Regions from separate parts of the Homo sapiens genome. Here all the other regions are linked to region 1. Evidence: fine-mapped expression QTL. A gene starts in region 1. Each other region holds a variant in brackets. All regions are shown on one strand. Distances are from middle to middle.

Region 1 (5,000 bases):
TACTACCTGTACAACTGGAGTCCCCCAGAGATTAGGGCAGACCTTCATTGTTTACTTGTCTACCTCACCCATTAGACTTTGAGCTCTTTGAAGACAGGGAATATCTTAATAGACTGAATCCCCATAGCCTTAGCAAGAGGCCTGAAACATAGTAGCTCTCCGAACTCCAGTAATGTTGGATAAACGAATTGACTGAATAAGCAAATTTACCAAGGTAGACCCATGAGCTCATGTAGTTAAAGAGTATGGATAAGCTTCAGGGAAAGTATGGGAAGTTTTCAGGGTCAATGTTCCCAAAACCCTTTTTGAAAGGCATAGTTTCTAGTTGAGGTGGGGAGTTTTTATATGCACCTGACTTAGAATTTTCCAAATAGGAACCAAAATGTTGTAAGTGCTGTGGTAGAAATCCCACCGGGCCAATGGGAAGAAATCAGCTCTGTCTGTAAGAGGAGAGACAGGATGGAGGCCAGCAAAGACTTCACAGTGTGGGAATTCTTCAGTGGACTCTTGAAAGCTGAGTCCGGTGCTTGCTACTTGCCCGTTTTGGGGCATAAAACCAAACTTCTGGAGCTTTTAAGGCTGGAAGTGACCTGCTCAAGGTCACACAAGAAGTAGATGAAGCCACAGGGTAAGAGAGATGAGGTATCTGTACTGATAATTCCTACTTTCTCCTGACAGAGTTGAAAGAGAACCCAAAAATGTAGGAGGCAAAATTAAAGATTGTTCTCAGGAACAATTCTTAAAGTCAAGACTAATGAATCTGAATTTTTATTAGTAACCACGGAACTAACCCTTCCCTTCACTGTTCACAGTTTTTGTAACAGTAGAACAATTATCCAAGGGGTTTAAAAACCAAGGACGTTGCTCACAACGCCACACCCACTACTTCTCAAGTATTCTTCCAAAACACTCCCAGTAATGTGTACTGCTGAAATAGGATAGCGAAGGCTACAACAATCATGTCTTTTCAAACGTAATAATGAACATAAAATAACTATAAATCTCCTTCCCCGGTTGTTTTTCACTTCCCAAGTTACAGAATATTCCGGGGTGGGGGAGGGGCTGCGTAAGTCAAGTCCTACCAGCCCTTATTTTTCAGGGAGTAGAACCCTAAAGGTGACTGTCCAAGCCTGGAAGGGGTCATTTATTCCATGCAGAAGGAACTGGGCGCCGCTTTGCTGTGCCTCCTCGTAGCGGGACAGGGTGAGCGCCGCAGGACTGCGAAGTTCGGGACGGACTCGGTCCCGGACCGGTACTCGTGTGGCCTCCCGGCTCCAGCCTGGCCTGGCCCCGCCCCGCCCCTTCCCTCTCCCAGGTCTCTCGAATCGCCCGGCGTCTGAGACCCGCGACCCCGCCGGTACGCGCACAGGGGGCCTTTGTTGGCCCGACGGGAGCGGGCCTCGCGGGGCGCCGCCCGCCTCACCTTACCTGGCGCCTCCTCCCGCCCAGGCGCCCGGCCCCGCAACGCGAAATAAATGGGCCCAGACCCCCACTCCACCCGTCCCCACCCCCGCGCCCCAGCCCTGGCAGCCCGGGACGCGAGGGGTACTGGGCGGTAGGCCCGCTCTCACCTTCCGCGCTCGCTCAGCTCCTCTCGGCTCCTCCTCCTCCTCCCGGCGGTGGGTGCCGCCTAGCCGGGAGTGAGGGCGCGAGTGTGCGCGAGCTACCGCTTCACTTTCTCCCTCCTGCCGCCGCCGCCGCGCTGCCCGTGGCGGGGCTCCCCTCAGGACAGGGGAACTGCGAGGGAAGGGATGATGGGGGGGCGGGAGGGAGCGAGGCGACGCGGGCGGGGGGGGAAGGGGGGACTGAGGGGCGAGGTGCGAAGGGCTCAGATGGCCTCTGAGGCAGGAGGTGGTAACTGGATGCGGAGACCAGGTTCCTCGAGGGGGCTCACGAAAGCGCGGGGCTCCGTGGAAAAGGGAATGAGAGTCCAAGGGGGAAGGCGTCTGTGGGGGAGGACTGCAGAGCCTGTGAGGGAAGCGCGATGGGCGAGCGAGGGGGCGGGAGCGTGTGGGGGAAGCCGTGAGGGGGCGTCTACTGTGCAGCCACCACCTTCGGCTCCGGCTGCAGCCGCGGGAGGGCAGCCTCCCCCGCCCACAGCCGCGCTATTGTACGCCGCCCGGCAGGCCTGACCGCCTAGTTCACTGGCTCCCCTACTCCTCCTCCTCCCGCCTCCTCCTCCCCTCTGCCCTTTCCCCTTCTCCCCCTCCCCCTCCCCCACTCCCCCTCCCCGGCGCGGCGGCGGCGGCTGCGGCTCCGGTGGAGCCGTGCCCGCCCCGCCTCCCGCAGGTGAGAGGGGGCGGGGAGGGCCTGACCGACCCGTGGGAGCGAGGCCAAACCCTGGCCCGCATGAGGGCGAACGCCTGGGATTACGTCATCGGCGCGTGACGCCAGAGGCTGGGGAATCACCCGCTTGCTGCGTGACGTCATCGCGTCGCGTCACTGTTCTCGGTCCGCTGTCCGTGGCGGGTTGTTTCCGTGCAGCCTTTCTATCAGACAATTTTGGGACGATTTCTGGGAGGGCTACTGTAGTAGTCAGGATGGAGAAAGACGGCTAACTTCCGGCGCTGAGGGTCCTTTTCAGGTTAACAAAGCACCACCGCATCTATGAGCTCGTTGTCAAGGGCTGAATTTGAAAACTATCCGATGTCGTGTGATCTCACAGCCAGACATGTATTATGTTTTCTTTCTGTGGGAGAGGGGGCAGGGGTGGGAGGAAGACAAAGAAATTATAACGGAGATGTTTGAACTAATGTGAACTGACATACGAAAAGAATGGGCTTCCTTTCACGTTTTTTCCCCTACCGTGGAGGGTACTTTCGACCCAAAGCTTTCTTTCTCCTGAGCTCAGATTGTGTATTTCCCAATACCTCCCGAGCAGCATTACCTGCATACTCTTCGTACCTCAGATTCAACATGTGCGAAACTGAGACAGCATTAGAAAGGCTAAGAGTCCGGAATCAGGTTGCCTTGCTTGAAATCCTAGCTATTCAAATATTAGTGATAGGACCTTGACATTTCTAAGCCGTAATTTTTCTGTAATAATAAGTAGTACCTTAACTAGGTCTTCCTAAGCCTCAGTTTTACCATGGTAATAGTAACAAGCCCTTTAGAATGTTGGCTATTATTATTATTTCCCCCCCAAAATTGCTTCTTACGTTCCTTTCCGTTCTCAATGAATGGGCCACCCATTCAACAATCCCCTAAGCCAGGAACCTAGACATACTAATAGCTCCCCGTTCTTCCTCTCTCAACATCCATATCAAGTTGGACACCAAGTCTTGTAGCTTCTCCTAAATATTTTTCAAGTCCTTGCCTGTGTCGTCTTCTACTACCACCACCTGAACAACTGGAGCAACCTTTAGTCTCTTCAAACTCAATCTATTTTTCTCACTAGTTACCTGAGTAGCCTTATAAAAGCACAAATCTGATGATGTCCTCCCGTTTAAACACCGAAAGGATTTTATTGCTTTCAGGATAAAGTTCAAACTCCTGAACTTGGCACTTTATTACCTGACTGCTTACACTAGCCTTTCTAGCTTTGTCTCACATCATTTATTTTTTGCTCCAAGCACACTGAAATATTAACGTTATTTGAATACACATTTCTTCATGTCTTCAAGCTCTTCCCTACTTAGCTGACTGGCCAACACCTATTCATTGTACAAAGCTGAGCTCAAATGTCATTCATATTCATATTCATATTCATTTGACTAATATTTCTAAAGTTTCCCTAAGCCTTAACAAAACTGTAATTCTATAGTATTTCTATGCCTTTTATGGAAGTAACTGCATTTGTGTATCTAATTTCTTGAGTTCCAAGTCATATTCCTTTCCATATCCTCAGCACCTAAAACAGTGCTTGACATATACCTAAGTATCAATATGTTGTTAAAATATATTTAATAAGGCCAGGCGCGGTGGCTCACGCCTGTAATCCCAGCACTTGGGAGGCCAAGGCAGCCAGATCACCTGAGGTCAGAAGTTTGAGACCAGCCTGGCCAATATGGCGAAACCCCATCTCTACTAAAATACAAAAATTAGCCGGGCGTAGTGGCAGGCACCTGTAATCCCAGCTACTCAGGAGGCTGAGGCAGGAGAATTGCTTAAACCCAGGAGGCGGTGGTTGTAGGAAGCTGTGATTGCACCACCACACTCCAGCCTGGGTGACAAGAGCAAAACTCTGTCTCAAAAAAAATGTATTTAATAAATGTTCCTATTGTTCTTTCTATGTGCCAGGTACTGTTCTGAGCACTTTACAAACACTGTCTTTAAACCTCTACCCTCTACGGTAGATACTGTTGTTATCCTCACCCATCTTATTGATGCGGGAACTGAGGCACAGAGGGGTTAAGTAACTTAACCCAGGATCCTAACCCAGTAAATTGACTCTAATCTGGATTGTCTTTTCGTGATCTCTGCACTAGGCAGAATAATGGCTCATCCAATGGAATGTTCACATTCCAATCCCTGGGAACTATGAATATGTTACCTTCCATGACAAAAGGACTCTGCAGATGTGAGTAAATTGAGGATTTGGGGAAAGGGACTCTCCAGCTTTTGGGAGCAGACTGGAAAATGGAAAAGGCAAGAAAATGGATCCTCCCTTGGAGCCTCTGGAAAGGAAGAGATGGTATCCTGATGATACCTTAATTTTAGCCCACTGACATCCATTTAGGACTTCTGAACTACAGAACTGTGAAATAATAAATGTGTATTGTTGGCCAGGCACAGTGGCTCACATCTGTAATCCCAGCACTTTGGGAGGCCGAGGCGGGTGTATCACCTGAGGTCAGGAGTTCAAGAGCAGCCTGGCCAACATGGTGAAACCCCATCTCTACTAAAAATACAAAATTAGCTGGGCGTGGTGGCACATGCTTGTAATCCCAGCTACTCGGGAGCTGAGGCAGGAGAATCGGTTGAATCCAGGAGGTAAAGATGCTGTGAGCCGAGATTGCGCCATTGCACTTAAGCCTAGAGACAAGAGTGAAACTCCATCT
Region 2 (5,204 bases), 24 kb after region 1:
ATTTTTTAACTAGAAATAAAAATAGGCTGGGCAAGGTGGCTCGATCTTATAATCCCATCACTTTGGGAGGCGAGGTAAGCAGATCACTTGAGCCCAGGAGTTCAAGACCAGCCTGGTCAACACAGTGAAACCCTGGCTCTACAAAAAATACAAAAAAATTTGCCAGCGTGGTGGTGCACGCTTGTAGTCCCAGCTACCCAAGAGGCTGAGGTGGGAGGATTGTTTGAGCCTGGGAGGTAGAGGTTGCAGTGAGCCACTGCTCTCCAGCCTGGATAACAGAGCAAGAACCTGAAAAAAGAAAGAAAAGAAAAAGAAATAAAAATAAAAACTCAGGCTGAGCTCAGTGGCTCATGCCTATAATCCCAGCACTGTGGGAGGTCAAGCCAGGCAGATCACTTGAGGTCAGGAGTTTGAGACCAGCCTGGCCAATATGGCAAAACGCTGTCTCTACTGAAAATACAAAAATTAGCCTGGCGTGATGGTGAGTGCACATAATCACAGCTACTCAGGAGGCTGAGGTAGGAGAATTGTTTGAACCTGGGAGGTGGAGTTTGCAGTGAACCTAGATCATGCCATTGCACTCCAGCCTGGGCAACAGACTATGTCTCCAAAAAAAATAAAAATAAAAATAAAAAAACTGAAATGGGTGATTTGAACCCAGAACCAGTCTCAGTAGCCTCCTTTGAACTGAGGAGACTCTTCACTAGGCAGGGCTCTGGTGAAGGTCCATACTCACTCCTGAATCTGCAAGGTCAATGGAGCTTATCTAGCCTGAATCTGTCCCACTGTATAGAGGAGCAGGACAGGGTGTGGGAAGCCTTCAGGAACTGGGCGAACATCTCCAAGTCCAGGAAGGGGAAGGTGTGCCCAGGTCCTTATCTCCCCATGGAGATGAGTCTGTGGGATGGCTATGGTGGTAGGCACTAGAGGTATGGAGATGAATAAAATATAATTATTGCCCTCAAAAGGTTGACCAATGACAATTCACATCTGAAATAATAATTTTTACATTCATCTGTATAGCCCCTAACAATTTATAAAACACTTTCTTCTTCTCACTTGATTCTCCCAAAAGCCATATGGGGAAGCCCCATTTTACAGATGAGGAAACTGAGACCCAGAAGGAAAGTGACTCACTTAGAAGGAAAGTGACTCACTCAAAGTGCACATACCAACTGCCTTTTACCAACTGCTTTCACAGCCATTAATTCATTTACAAGGGGCACAGCCTGGCTTAGGAGAGGGACATGGGGACAGCATTGCTGGGCTCTGAGATCGTGTGTGTGGTGTATTTCTATCAAGTGATGAATTCTGTTCAGCTGCTTGAGCCAAGAATTCCATCCAACTCAGCAGCATGTAGGGAGTCAGTTCTATTCCAAAGGGCAAAGCTGTTCAGTACATCACTATGGAAGGAACAAAAGGATCTCTCTCTTGCTGTGTCCTCTGATTCCTACTGTCTTAGTTTCCTTTGCATTTTCTGACTTTGAGATATAGTGCTCACAATGCTGTATGCAAGTGTTTTTTGTTTTTCACTAGAATATTAATCTTCACAATGGCAAGAATATTTAATTTTTAGGTGTCTTCTAAGACTGTTTCTTTTTTAAAAAACTGCTACCTTCAGTAAAAAATACATCCTACATATGTAGTAGAAACAACTTTTCATAAAATAATACTTAACCTTAGTCTGTGCAAGTATTTTCTATTCTATTTTATATTATTTCATTTTTTAAAAAATTCTAATCTTCTAAATGTAATGTGGTATTCTGGAAACGTAGAACAGAAAAAGGACACTAGTGGAAAAACAGGTGAAACCCAAATAAAATCTATAGTTTAGTTAATAATATTACATTAATGTTAATTTCTTACTTTAACAAATGTACCATGGTTATGTAATATGTTAACATTAGGGGGAGCTGGGTGAAAAACATGTGGAAACTTTCTGAACTATCGTTCTATGCTTTTGGTAAATCTAAAATTATTCCAAAAGGAAAAGTTTATTTAAAAACAAAACAAAAATTTCCAGTCTTGACCATTTAAACTGATATCATGACCCACTCATGGGTCAGAATTCACACTTCCAGTGTGATGTCTGCTGTCTTTTTGGATAATGCTGACAGGAATCATTGCAGTGATTTATAAAAGCTCATTATTGCTCTTTCTCCGACACACACACACACACATGGTGCCACGGCCCACCTCTCACAGTCCTTGGCCTCTCTGCCTTGTCTTACATTCATTTTTTATCTATATGGCCTGCCTTTGAAGGGCTCTCCCTGCCTGTATCATCTGAGCAACCTCAAAAGAATACATGGTACATATTTGTTAAATGAATGCCCGAAGAAATAATTGTATTTTTAACACCCTTGCTTGTAATTTTTTTTTTTTTTTTTTTTTTTTTTTTGAGACAGAGTCTTGCTCTGTCACTAGGCTGGAATGCAATGGCAAGATCTCAGCTCACTGCAACCTCCGCCTCCCATGTTCAAGCATTTCTCCTGCCTCAGCCTCCTAAGTAGCTGGAACTACAGGCACACGCCACCATGCCAAGCTAATTTTTGTATTTTTAGTGGAGACTGGGTTTCACCATGTTGGACAGGGTGGTCTCGAACTCCTGACCTTGTGATCCACCCGCCTTGGCCTCCCAAAGTGCTGGGATTACAGGCATGAGCCACCACGCCCTGCCAAATTTTATTCCCTCTTCAAACTGCAAGAAATTTTTTTTATACATAGAAGTCTAATATAAAGCCTTCTATTAAATTTACCAAACTTGGCAGAAGGTCTTTAACTTTTCATATTAATGAGTGATACCCACTCACTACTAAAAAAAAAAAAAGAGAAGGATAATTTTTAAAGGGAGGAAAATAAAATTTCAAAAATTCACTTATAATCCTACCAGGAATATCTATTGTTAACATTTTTTTTCTTTGTGTTGAGATGGGGTCTCATTATGTTACCCAGTCTGGTCTTGAACTCCTGGGCTCAAGCA[A/G]TCCTCGCAGTTTGGCCTCCTGAATACCTGGGACTACAGGTGCATGCCACCACACCTGGCTTATTGCTAACATTTTGGTGCATAGTCTCTTCCACATGTATACATGTAAATAAATATATTTTTCAGACAAATGTTCCTACTATTCATACAGTTTTAGAGATGTCTTCACTCAAGCTGTTCCCTCATCCTGGAATGCATTTCCTCCTTTTTATCCTTCACTGTATAGTTCCTACTCATCCTTCTAGATCCAACCCATGATCCCACCTCTGGGAAGTCTTTCATGCCCACTCTGCCCTTCTCAACTTTAGAGGAAGTAGGTACTGCCTCTTAAGTATTCCAGTGATACTTTCGTTATACCTTTATTACACTTTTTGTCTTAATTAGTTGTTTACATGCCTGTCTGTCCCAACAGTCAGGGAATGTTAATTTAGAGTTGATGTGGGCCCTGGATCCATATTGCTCCCTAAGCACTGAGTTGGTTTGTGCTGACACTGCACACACACACACACATACACACACAGAGCAGTAGACTTTCCGGCATTTTGGCTTCTACAGAACAGAATGGATACAGCCTGGCTAAATGTCTCACCCTTTTGACCTTCTCTAGCACTCACCTGATAAATCCACCATCCAGCATCAGCGAACACTTCCATCTCTGCTTCTACACCTGGCTCTGAAAGTGGCTGGAAGACCTCTGAACACACGCATCTGAGATAAGCAAGCCCTGACCATAAGTGAGTGGAAGAAGTTTGCTCCCTTGGAAAATTTTGTTATAATCAGTTCATAAAAATGAAAATTCACAAACACAGAATTTGTATAGCAAAGATGAATATACATAACTCAGATTCAACTGAGAGCCCTCCTGCCCTTAAAGATCAAAATATAAACCGGGTGCGGTGGCTCACGCCTGTAATCCCAGCACTTTGGGAGGCCGAGGTGGGCGGATCACAAGGTCAGGAGTTCGAGACCAGCCTGGTTAACATGGTGAAATCCCGTCTCTACTAAAAATACAAAAATTAGCCAGGCATGGTGGTGCATGCCTGCAGTCCCAGCTACTCAGGAGGCTGAGGCAGGAGAATTGCTGGAACCCAGGCAGCGAAGGTTGCAGTGAGCCGAGATTGTGCCACTGCACCCCAGCCTGGGCAACAGAGTGAGACTCCACCTCAAAAAAAGAAAAAAAAGTCGAAACATAATTAACTGGATTCCTCCCTCCAATTCCACGTCTTGTGGAAATCCAAAGCCCTCCTCAAGATTTCCGTTCTGGCTGGGTTCAGTGGCTCACACCTGTAATCTCAGCACTTTGGGAAGCCGAGGCAGGAGGATCATTTGAGCCCCAGAGTTCAGGATCAGCCTGGGCAACACACTGAGACTTGTCTCCACACACACAAAAAAATTAGCTGGGTGTGATGATGCATGCCTGTGGTCCCAGCTATTCAGGAGGCTGAGGCAGGAGGATTGCTTGAGCTTGGGAGGTTGAGGCAGCAATGTGCTGTGTTCACACCACTGCACTCCAGTCTAGGAGACAGAGTGAGACACTGTTTCAAAAAAAAAATTCAGTTCTTTCCCAACAGACTTCTCTTACCACAGCCAGCTAGCCTCTGGGCTCCTGGCTCCCCACATGGTCCTCTGTTCTGCAGTGTGCAGATCCACATTCAAAACTTAGTCCCTCCAATTTCCACCAAAAACCCAATCCCGGGTAATTAGCCGGGCGTGGTGGCAGGCGCCTGTAGTCCCAGCTACTTGGAAGGCTGAGGCAGGAGAATCGCTTGAACCCAGGAGGCGGAGGTTGCAGTGAGCTAAGATCCCACCACTGCACTCCAGCCTGGGTGACAGAGCGAGACTCCGTCTCAAAAAAAAAAACAAAAAACAAAAAACAAAAAACAACCCACTCCCATAGAGCAGTTTTGAAGTTAGTAGAATTTGCTGGCAATGTGGAGGATGAAGGGGAAATCCAGGAGAGTTTCACATCCATAGCAAAGCAAACAATTCAAAATGGAAGGACCACTATCTGCCAGAGGGGAGCTTCCCCGGCCCTTCACTCCACCCGGACTCAGTCTCTCCACTGACTCCTCTCTTCTTCATCCTTCTCTCTTCTCTCTACTCCCTGTGGTGGCATCTTTTCTCTGTGCCTGCTGAGCATTCACTGAATTCGACCCCTCTTCTCGGGTAATAAGCAACAGCTTTCCCTTGGGGAACCACCCTTACCCCTTCTCTCAAATGG
Region 3 (5,204 bases), 210 kb before region 1:
ATAGTGCACTTGCCATGGGTCTAAAATTTAAAGGGGTGCCAAAAACTAATAAGCAAGATAAATACTATTTTAATACAATATTTAAAAGACAAAACCAATGCAAAAATCCACTATAAACAAAATATTAAATTTTAAATGAAGATAAGATAGTATTACTGATTTTTCCTTTTGTCTCAGGTTCTCATATGGCTTGGCATGACACATCTTCATTAAAATTTTTGACATTTTGTTCATCATGGATGCTAAAGGGTAGGCAATACCAACAGAAACTAGTTATCACACACATACTTGTTATGTGTGACATTTACATTTATTTCCCTTAAAAAGTTAGGCGGAGACTGCATTAGTAGAGAGGGAGTAAGAGCAATAGGCACAAACAAGCTTATTGGGATCTTTCAATCTAACTCAGCTTCCATGGACTTCCAGTGACTGTTGGCAAGATTTCTCCTATTGGTCCACACGAGGAGGTCAACATTTCTTCAGGATCTGTGTGTTTCTGCAATCCCCAGAAAACTTAATTCAGTGTTCTCCAGAGAGGTGTATGGCTGGCTGGGCTTTTATGCTAAAAATTTTATAAGAGGACTGGGAATAATAGCAGCCAAAAATTTTGCGTAGATCTTCTCAGAATCTCCCATAGGCTTTCACTCAGATGCAAATAACTTGTTTACATTACTTGCTTTTTAGATTTAAAAAATGTCTCTGCCTTTTCAAATGTTTCTCAAAAATATATTCAAATGAAGGTTTTTTCATATAAACGTGTTTCACATTTAAGAACAACATAGCTGCAATTTTATAAAGTGGGATGAGCACTATCAAATTCACTTTGGGGTGAACTTGGGGTAGGGATCAAACATCCTTTACAACTATATTATCACAAATCTCAAAAATTCCAACACTTTAAAGGCAAGAAGGGAAGAAGGAGCCAGCAAAAGAAGTCACATAGGAAACAGCCAGGTAGGAAGAAAATCAGGAGAGTATGGTATTCTAATAGCCAAATAAAGAAAGTCTTTCAAAAATGAAGGACTTCTCAAATGCTGAGAGAGTAAGATGAAAATGAAAATTTACTATGATGTTTAAGAAGTTTGAGGTCCCTGATAACTTAGTAAGAGCTCTGAGAAGTGGTGTAGAAGAAGCCTGATTGGGATAGGCTCAAAAAGGATTAAAAGTTATCCAAAACAAAGGGGAGAACTGAGAGAAGGCAAAGAAAGGCAATGTTGGAGTTCAAGACACTCACCCTAAAATATGACGGCAGGAGACCAGAATATGCCACCCCAATATATACCTCTTTGGCATATTGATTATTTTGAGCTGGTTATTTTGAGAAACTGCAGACACAGGAGAAGCTCTGAAAAGTTGCCCTTTTGTAAAGGAAATTTATATTTATAAAGGAAATTTTCATTAGTAAAAGTATCTGTACCAATAAGAGAGCTGCTCTGAAATCATTTTATTATCAACAGACTTATATCTGTTTAATAAGACAACCTTTATTCACCACACATTTTCTTCCCTCTTCTTACCACAATTTGTCTCTGCCCCCGCACACCCCTATTCCTTTCTATAGCTCAGGAAACTATACAAGCTTCAATCATCTGGCCTTTTCCTTGAGTTTCAAATTTTTGTGGGACTCCCATGTGCACATAGGTAATTAAAATTATTTTTCTCCTGTTAATCTGTCTTATGTCAATTTAATTTGTAGACTAGCCAAAGAACCTAGAAGGGTAGACCAATAAAACCTTTTGATCCTCTAGAGCAGTACAGACCACTCTTTGGAGGAATGCTGCTTAAAAGAAAGTGAAGACATGGAGCATAAACTGGAGCAGTATATAGGGCCTAGAAAAGTTTTAAAATGTCAGAATGGATCATCTTCTGATTTTAGAATCACTTTATCTATATCTTTTCTTAAGAAAGCTAACGCAATTCTTTTCTTTAAATTCTATTTTGAGAGGATTGTAGATTCACATGGGTTTGTAAGAAATACAGAGAGATCCTATATACCCTTAGCCCATTTCCCCTAATAGTAACATCTTGCATAACTATACTATACTATCACAACAAGGAAACTGACACTGATAAAATCTGTGACCTCATTCAGATTTCATTC[G/A]TTTTACATGAACTTATTTGTATATTTAGTTCTATATTTAGTTTACATGAACTTATTTGTATATTTTGTTAATTTTATCACATGTGCAGACATATCACCACCACCATAGTCAAGATACAGAAAAGTAAATATACAAGAAGAGTTTTGTGTTACCTTTTAAAGTGGGAGCCACTTCTCTGCCTCCTTCACCCCTGGAAACCACTGATTTTTCTCCATCCCTTTAATTTTGTCATTTGAATGTGATCTTCAAATGGAATCATACAGTATATAACCTTTTGAGACTGGCTTTATTCACTCAAAGTAACTCCCATGAGGTCCATCCAAATAGCAGCATGTTTCAATAGTTCATTCATTTTTATTGCTGGGTAATATTCCACAGTATGGATGAATACAGTTTATTTAATCATTAAACCTCTTAAAGGACATTTGGGTTGTTTCTAGATTTGGGCTATTACAAATAAAACAGCTATGAAAATTAATGTGAAGTTTTTCTCTATATGAACATTGTCTTCTTTTCTGTGGAATAAATGCCCAGGAGTACAATTTCTGGGGTGTATGGTAAGTATATAATGTGCCACATAATGACAATTCAGTCAACAACGGACCTCATATATGACAGTGGCCCCATAAGATTATAATGGAGCTGAAAATTTCCTATCACCTAGTGACTTCGTAGCCGTAATATTGTAGCACAATACATTACTCGTATGTTTATGGTGACACTTCTGTAAACAAACCTGTACAGCCAATCATATAAAAGTATAGCACATACAACTACAGATAATACATAATACCTGAGGATGACAATAAACAACTGTTACTGGTTTATATATTTACTACACTACACTTTTTATTGTTATTTTAGAGTATATACATTCTATTATATATTTAAAAAATTAAATGTAAAACAGCCTCAGGTAGTCCTTCAGGAGGTATTCTAGAAGGCATTGTTTTCATAGGAGATGACCGCTCCATGCATGTTATCCCTGCAGACACTGCAGTGGGACAAGATGTGAAGGTAGAAGACAGTGATATGAACGATCCTGACCCTGTGTAAGCCTAGGCTAATGTGTGTGCTTGTTTCTTAGTTTCTAACAAAAAAGTTAAAAAAAAATTAAAATAGAAAACAGCTTAGAGAATAAGGTTATAAAGAAAGAAAATATTTTTGTACAGCTGTACAATGTAGTTGTGCTTACACTAAGTGTTATCACAAGAGTCAAAAAGTTACAATAAGCTGGAGTTAATTTATTATTGAAGAAAATTTTTTTATGAATTTGGTGCAATCTAAGTGAACAGTGTTTATAAAGTCTTCAGTAGTGTACATAATGTCCTAGGCCTTCCCATTCACTTACCACTCACTCACTGACTCACCCAGAGCAACTTCCAGTCCTGCAAGCTCCATTCATGGTAAATGCCCTATACAGGTGTACCATGTTTTATCTTTTATATTGTTATTTTTACCGTACTTTTCCTATGTTTGGATATATTTAGATACAGAAATACCTACCATTGTTCTGCAATTGCCTACAGTATTCAGTACAGTAACATGCTGTACAGGCTTGCAGCCGAAGAGTAACAGGTCATACCATATAGCCCAGGTGTGTAGTAGGCTATGCCATCTAGGTTTGTGTAAGTTCACTCTATGATATTCACACAGTGATAAAATTGCCTAACAACGCATTTCTCAGAACGTATGCTCATCATTAAGTGAGATATGACTGTATTTAGTTTTTTAAGTAACTGCCAGACTTACTTGGAGTGGCTATACAATTTTATGTTTCCACCAGGAACATATGAGTGACTCAATTTGTCTGCCAGCATTTACTGTTCTTGCTATTTTTTAACTTAGCCATACCGATAGATGAGTAGTATTAGTTTTAATTTGCATTTTCCTAAAGGTTAATGCAGTTGAACATCTTCTCATGTACTTATTTGCTATCTGTATATTCTCTTCAGTGACATATCTACACATGTATTTCGTCCATTTTCTAATTGGATTGTTTGGTTTGTATTTGTTTTTGTTTTCATTTTACTGTTGAGTTTTGAAAGTTTATATATCCTAGACACAAGTCTTTTGCCAGACATGTGTTTTACAAATATTGTCTCCCAGTCTGACACTTGTCTTTTCATTCTCCTCATAGGGTCTTAGAGCAAAAGCTTTTCAGAATGAATTCCCTGGAATTTTCTCCTTCCCCCATCTCTGCTTGGTAAAATGGTATTTTTCCTTCGAGGCTCAACCCAAACACAACTTTGAGCACACAAATTTTTTTTCTTTTTTTTCCCACACAACAGGAAGTGACCTTTTCCTCCACTGAGGTTCCATTACACTTATTTTTCTCTGGAAGGCTCTTGCCACAAATGGCCTTATTCTGTAGTTATCTGTAAACATCCCATGTCTCCTTCACTAGCTGGAACATCTTTTAGGTATGACTACATCTTATTCATTTGCATTTCCCAAGCACTCAGAAGAAGGCCTGGAATACAGCAAATGCTCAAGGAATGTTAAATAAATTGCTAAGGTAGTACATAGAGTGAAGTGGTAAGCACGGTTTGCAATGGGGCCATATGTGAATCATGTGTGAAGACTATATCTAGTGTGTCTGATTTGTAACCCTGTCATTGAAAACATGGAGATGCAGAGGTGCGGTTTGTGAGATGTGGTTCATTTGTGTAGTACATGCATATATGCCATATGAACACAGGAACAACTCCCCAGGGCTTGCTGTCTCTACAACCTCAGGCCAGGCTGGTTCTCTTGCATGGCATTGAACTTATACCCTCCTCCCCTCACCCCAGTTCCCTGCTTTCTTACCTTAAGTGTATATCAGTCTCCAATCCATGGGCTCCATGTTCAACAGCTTTCTCAAAGGACATCATGGTATTCTCAGGCCCCAACTGTAGAAGAAAAGGACATCAGGCCCTAAGCCTCAGAGTCTCTCCTCCCAGCATTCCTTTTGTGGTAGGGGTAGAGCCCAGTAGGATTTTGGGGAGCAGAGCTTGGCTCCCTGAGATCTCCTTTCAAAACCTGTATACCCTCCGTCCAAGCTGATTCTGGGACTCTGCTCATCTGAGACAATGTCACTGGGCACAGTAAAGAGAAATG
Region 4 (5,204 bases), 23 kb before region 1:
TGGCACAGGAGGACAATGTCAGAGAAGGCATCAGAGACAGATATTTGAACTTGGTCTTGAAGGTTGTTGAGTGTAAGGACAGCAAGCAAAGGAAAACATGTTAAACAAACAAAATGCTATGAGACCCAAGTTAAGGGAACATGAGAAAGAATGTTTGGCTTATTTCAGCAATAGTGTGAAAACTTACAAAGAAGTGATAGGTTATACAGAACCAGAAATAAGATTAGCATGAGGAAGGGACTACCCATGGGAAGTTTTTTGTGGAAAGCAAAGTGGTATAATAGGCAAAAAGAGGTAGTCATTTGAGAAACTCTTGAAACTATTTAGCTGGAGAAGAACAGTAATAAAATCACTATTGTGATTATAAAGAATTGTCATGTGGAGGAAAGGTTGAATTCATTTTGTCTGACCCAAGGGACAGATTTAAGAAGGTGGATAGAAATTAAAAAATGATATTATACAAAAATGGCTAAGGAATATTAATGATATACAGGGTGAGTGTTTGAAATTTAAAAGAAAATGTCCCTCCTGTACGTTTTGAAATTAACCCAGAAAGCTCGAAAGAGAAACTCCTTCAATCTTAGCCTGGGCTAAGAACCCCAGGCTTTCTCTTCCTCTTTGGGGACAAGACTTGACTTGATGGGCCTTTGGTGCAACCAGGTTTGAGGAAGGTGCTTCCACCACTTCCTGAGGCCTTACACAATTCAATTCAACCTCAAAAGGGAACACTAGCCCACACAGAAACAGCTTAAAAAGAAAACTAAAGAAGGCAACGACTTTAAAGGAAACTAGGCAGTGCGCTTAAAGAGAAAAGGGCAATGGGAACAACATGAACATCAGAGGCATCAACTATCTGTTCTCATGTTAATGAAGGAAGGAAGAGCAGCAAGACCATTCAGTTCAACATCTCACTGTACACATAGAGAAACTGAAGCCCAGAAAGGGGATAGGGCAGGTAAAGCCAGGCATGAAAACAACTTAACATAAAACGTTAGAGTTCAGGCAGACTCTTTTATCATCTCACTTTTCCTCAAAATAACACAGTGAAGGAGGTGTTATTTTCCCAATGAGACACGAAGATCTTTAAAGCATTACAATGTTTGTGTTAGTTTTCCTTATGGGTTGCTGGAATGAATAATGCTTTCCTTTTCAATCCTATAGGTAAAAAAAAAAAAAAAAAAAAAATCACCCTAAGGACTGGAGCTTCTCCAGGGAAATAATGTGGACTAGGAAACAGTTTCTCAATACCCTCACCCCAATTCCCCTATTCTATCTAGGACTTTCCAATGTATTACATATTCAATTTTTTAAAAATTCTGTTTTAGCCCCTGTGCTGAGAACAGGGAGCAAAAATTCAATCAGACATGCATCTTCAAGGAGCTTCCCATTCTGAAAGCATAGACAAGCATGACAATCAATGATTATCTTTTAGTCATGAAGACTTGGTTTCAAATCCTGGGTCTGCCCTTTACTAGCTAAGGCAAGTCATTTCCTTTCATCTAAACTTCAGACTCCTTTTCTGCGAAATTGAAGGCAATACCCTCAGTCTAACTCAAAGTATTAACTTGTGAGTATTTGGAAAGATAATTATTTAAAGCACCCAGCAGAATGTCTGATCCACAGTATATATGCTCAGAAGGTATTTACTGAATTAATGGCTTACATAAAAGTATCAATTCTAGGGGTAGAGTTGGGAAGAAAGAACATCCCAGCATTATGTTTTCTCATAACCCTGGACCCACTGAGAGAATGATGTTTACCTGATCATGTGGGTTTCATGCTCCCCAACTCTTGTGCATTAAAGCCACAAATACCACCCCAGCATTAAAAACCCGAAAGAACCTGGCAGGTCCCACACAATGACTAGGGATGAAGGAAATAGCTGTCTGGCCTGACCATATTTGCAAAGGGAAGTAGGCAGCAGAGCAAGGCCTAAAAAACCCAAGACCTGAAATCCTGCAAATCCTTATGATTAAAGACTAGAAAATCCTTGTTAAATACAAATATCTCTGCAAGGTGAAGCTGGGGTGAAGAATTAGGAGCCATTAGGGATTTATGGAACTCTATGGGCCACAGAAGTTCTCCACTTTAGATAGATATTATTTCAAAAAAATACATTGGC[A/G]TATCTACTGTGGGTCAGGTGTTGAAACAGCAGAGGACTTAGACATGGTTCCAGTTTTTGAGACACTTAGAATAACAGAGACAGAGATCACAATGAAAAATGGTTTCACCACTAAGGTCCTGACATACTGCTATTCAGTGGGCTGCAACTGCCTGCAGAAGTGACCCAAGTTTCCCAGTTACCAAGTTTCCTCCTCCTCTTTTTCAATCCATTTACCACAAAACCTGCCATCTCTAGAGGCCCTTCTCTGGGCAGAAGAGCTTGCCTATGTGCCACAGGAGTTTAGAATGGAAATCTGACTAACAGCAAAGCTCATACCTTACACCACCTATAGCCTCTGGAATCAAACTCCACAAAACACTTTAAAACCACAGAACAAGAAGTTCTGATGTATTTATTTTAAGACTTTAGGGAAACCATTTGAGAAGACAGAACTAAGTCTTCTGAGAATATCTCAAACATTTACTGACTACCTATTATGTTCCAGCCACCACTTTGATTCTTTATAATGGGGTTCAAGACATGCTACCCCAAAATATGACATCTTAGCATATGAGAAAACAGCAGACGCAAGAAAGTATTCTCACTCTCAGCTTCCCCTCACCCTTCTCCCCTGAAGCAGGTAATCAGATCCTCATTCAAGAGGTACCCTCCTTATTCCCAGAGGAAAGCCTCATTTTTCTCTGAAGACACAGGGACATACAGAAAAATCTGAACAAACCAGCCTTGCTAAGTTCCCTCCAACCCTGATCCTATTACCATTACATCATACCGCCTTTGTCCAATCATATTTCTCCAAGACTACCCACTTCTTCCATCAAACCTAAACATAAAAATACACAAGTTTGCCTGTTTCTTTGCATCCTCATTTCCTTATGAAGGCTCCTATGTCATGTAAAACTTGTATTAAATATATTTGCTTGCTTTTCTCTCGTTAATGTCTTTTGTTTTTTTTTGTTTTTTTTTTGAGACGGCGTCTTGCTCTGTCGCCCAGGCTGGAGTGCAGTGGCACGATTTCTGCTCACTGCAAGCTCCGCCTCCTGGGTTCATGCCATTCTCCTGCCTCAGCCTCCCGAGTAGCTGGGACTACAGGCGCCACCACCACGCCCGGCTAATTTTTTGTATTTTTAGTAGAGACGGGGTTTCACCATTTTGGTCAGGCTGTCTCGAACTCCTGACCTCAGGTGATCCGCCTGCCTCGGCCTCCCAAAGTGCTGGGATTACAGGCGTGAGCCACCACGCCCGACCTCTCTCGTTAATGTCTTTTGCTACAGGAGCCTCAGCCATGAACATAGCAATGGGAAAAATATTTCTTTTCCCCTACATTTATATATATTAATGTCCTCAAAACAACCCTGTAAGAGAGCTATTATTGTCTCAATTTTACAAAGAAAAAACTACGTTCACAGAAATTAAGTGACTTGCCCAAAATCACACAGTTAATAAGTGATGGAGCTAAAAATTCATAAGTAAATTGGCCACGTCCACTTTAAAGTCTTCATTTCATTTTTTCCCCTGCATCTCACATTTCATTCTAATGATAACGCTGTGAGGCAGAGTATCAACATAATTTCATTTTATAAATAGGAAACTGGTGCTTAAGGAAGTGATATTACTTTCTGAGAAACAGGTCAGTAAGTAGCAGAGCCACAGTTTGTACCCAGATCTCATGCCCTCAAATCTGCACTCTTTACACTACCCCACAATTCCTCTTACACTTGCCTTGCAGAGAGGTGTAGTAAAAATATACTTAATAGGGAGTCAGAAGTGCTGAGATGTGGTCTTGACTCTGTAACTAACTTATATAATATTGAATGAGCTGCTTTTCTTCTCTTGGCTTCAGTTTCTCATTCATAAAATAAGGGTGTTGAATTAGACATCTCCTAGGGTCCCCTTCAGCCAGCAACCCAACTAGTCTATGAGAAGCAGTTTCTCTAATTTCCTTGCCACTCAAGCAGTAACTTTCTAAAAGAAAAAAAAAGACTGGTTATTTACAGTATAGACGAAGGTGGAAAATGCTCAGCACCAAAGAGTAGAAATTACCCATTCAAAAGGCATATTTACCTTCCTCAAACACCCTAGATATAAAGAAAGAAGAAGCCATAAGCCACCTAATAACAGGGTTGGCACATCTAATAACAAGCCAAGTAGGAGTAAAGAGTGTGTTCATGGTAGGGCCCTTTTCCCTCTGCTGGATTCCTAACACTTCTATTCACTAGCTTTCTCTCTTCCTAGGTTGGCACATCAGCCCTGCCTCACAGCAAATCAGGCTTATGACTTTAACTAAATCCCATCAGATCTAAACAATCTACAAATGACTTTTTACTAGTATTACAGAACAAAAAAATGAAAGCCCCAGATGTAAATTCATCCATGCCAAGAAATAGGAAGAAGGAAGAAGTGGGATATATAAGATTTTGGAGGCCAGGTGCGGTGGCTCACGCCTGTAATCCCAGCACTTCAGGAGGCCGAGGCAAGCAGATCGCCTGAGGTCAAGAGTTCAAGATCAGCCTGGCCAATATGGCAAAACCCCGTCTCTACTAAAAATACAAAAATTAGCCAGGTGTATGGCGCACGCCTATAGTCCCAGCTACTCAGGAGGCTGAGGCAGAAGAATCGCTTGAACCCAGGCAGCAGAGGTTTCAGTGAGCCGAGATCGCGCCATTGCACTCCAGCCTGGGCGAAAAGAGCAAAACTCAGTCTCAGGAAAAAAAAAAATTTTTTTGGAAAAATTATTTCCCTGTCTGTCCTAGTTTCTTTATATATAAAGCAAAGGAGAGAGTCCAAACTGATTCTAAACACCTTTCCCACTGAAACTTAACATGAACTTGTAAGTATTCTATATTTAGAAAATGTGAGATATATTAAAAAAAAAAAAAACAAGGGGGAAAAGGGCATGGTATTACAAATTTTAATTACCTCACAGGAGAAAATAAAAAGGAATGAATTATAGTGCCAGGGAAGAACATAAAATATGTATGGTCACAGCAAGCTGAATACATATTAGTTATAAGAGCAAAAGGAACTGCACTATCCCTGTAACAGCCAAATAATTCATATAATGCCCCAGGGTAAGACTGCA

Which allele goes with the higher level. Positions count from the first base shown, and alleles are read on the strand shown. Sizes are in standard deviations (SD) of each study's normalised expression. Not every link is listed here.
For the expression in monocytes after Pam3CSK4 of the gene that starts at base 2,114 in region 1, allele A in region 2 goes with a lower level than allele G (small effect, 0.34 SD a copy in Quach 2016).

Evidence for each region. PIP is the estimated chance that this variant, and not a neighbour inherited with it, causes the effect. A credible set is the group of variants that fine-mapping cannot tell apart.
Region 2: its variant is the best candidate, but not a certain one, in a credible set for the expression of PAK1 in monocytes after Pam3CSK4 (Quach 2016, PIP 0.85).
Region 3: its variant is the best candidate, but not a certain one, in a credible set for the expression of PAK1 in whole blood (INTERVAL, PIP 0.62).
Region 4: its variant is the best candidate, but not a certain one, in a credible set for the expression of PAK1 in whole blood (INTERVAL, PIP 0.52).

What each region holds. Positions count from the first base shown.
Region 1 is chr11:77,471,981-77,476,980 of GRCh38, forward strand. PAK1 (p21 (RAC1) activated kinase 1) reads right to left here and starts at 2,114. Exons shown (of 15, transcript NM_002576.5): 1 at 1,572-2,114. RefSeq lists an enhancer at 1,222-2,138 and silencers at 1,379-1,688, 1,709-1,758, 1,989-2,348.
Region 2 is chr11:77,496,319-77,501,522 of GRCh38, forward strand. It overlaps a transcript of PAK1 not described here. Among named protein-coding and RNA genes, the nearest start is that of PAK1, 25 kb to the left of the region's middle. The variant A/G (reference allele first, on the strand shown) is at 2,984.
Region 3 is chr11:77,263,544-77,268,747 of GRCh38, forward strand. It overlaps GDPD4 (glycerophosphodiester phosphodiesterase domain containing 4), which reads right to left. Exons shown (of 17, transcript NM_182833.3): 10 at 4,914-4,996. Among named protein-coding and RNA genes, the nearest start is that of GDPD4, 36 kb to the right of the region's middle. The variant G/A (reference allele first, on the strand shown) is at 2,102.
Region 4 is chr11:77,448,529-77,453,732 of GRCh38, forward strand. All of the region lies in intron 1 of PAK1 (p21 (RAC1) activated kinase 1), which reads right to left. Among named protein-coding and RNA genes, the nearest start is that of PAK1, 23 kb to the right of the region's middle. RefSeq lists enhancers at 187-957, 537-966. The variant A/G (reference allele first, on the strand shown) is at 2,123.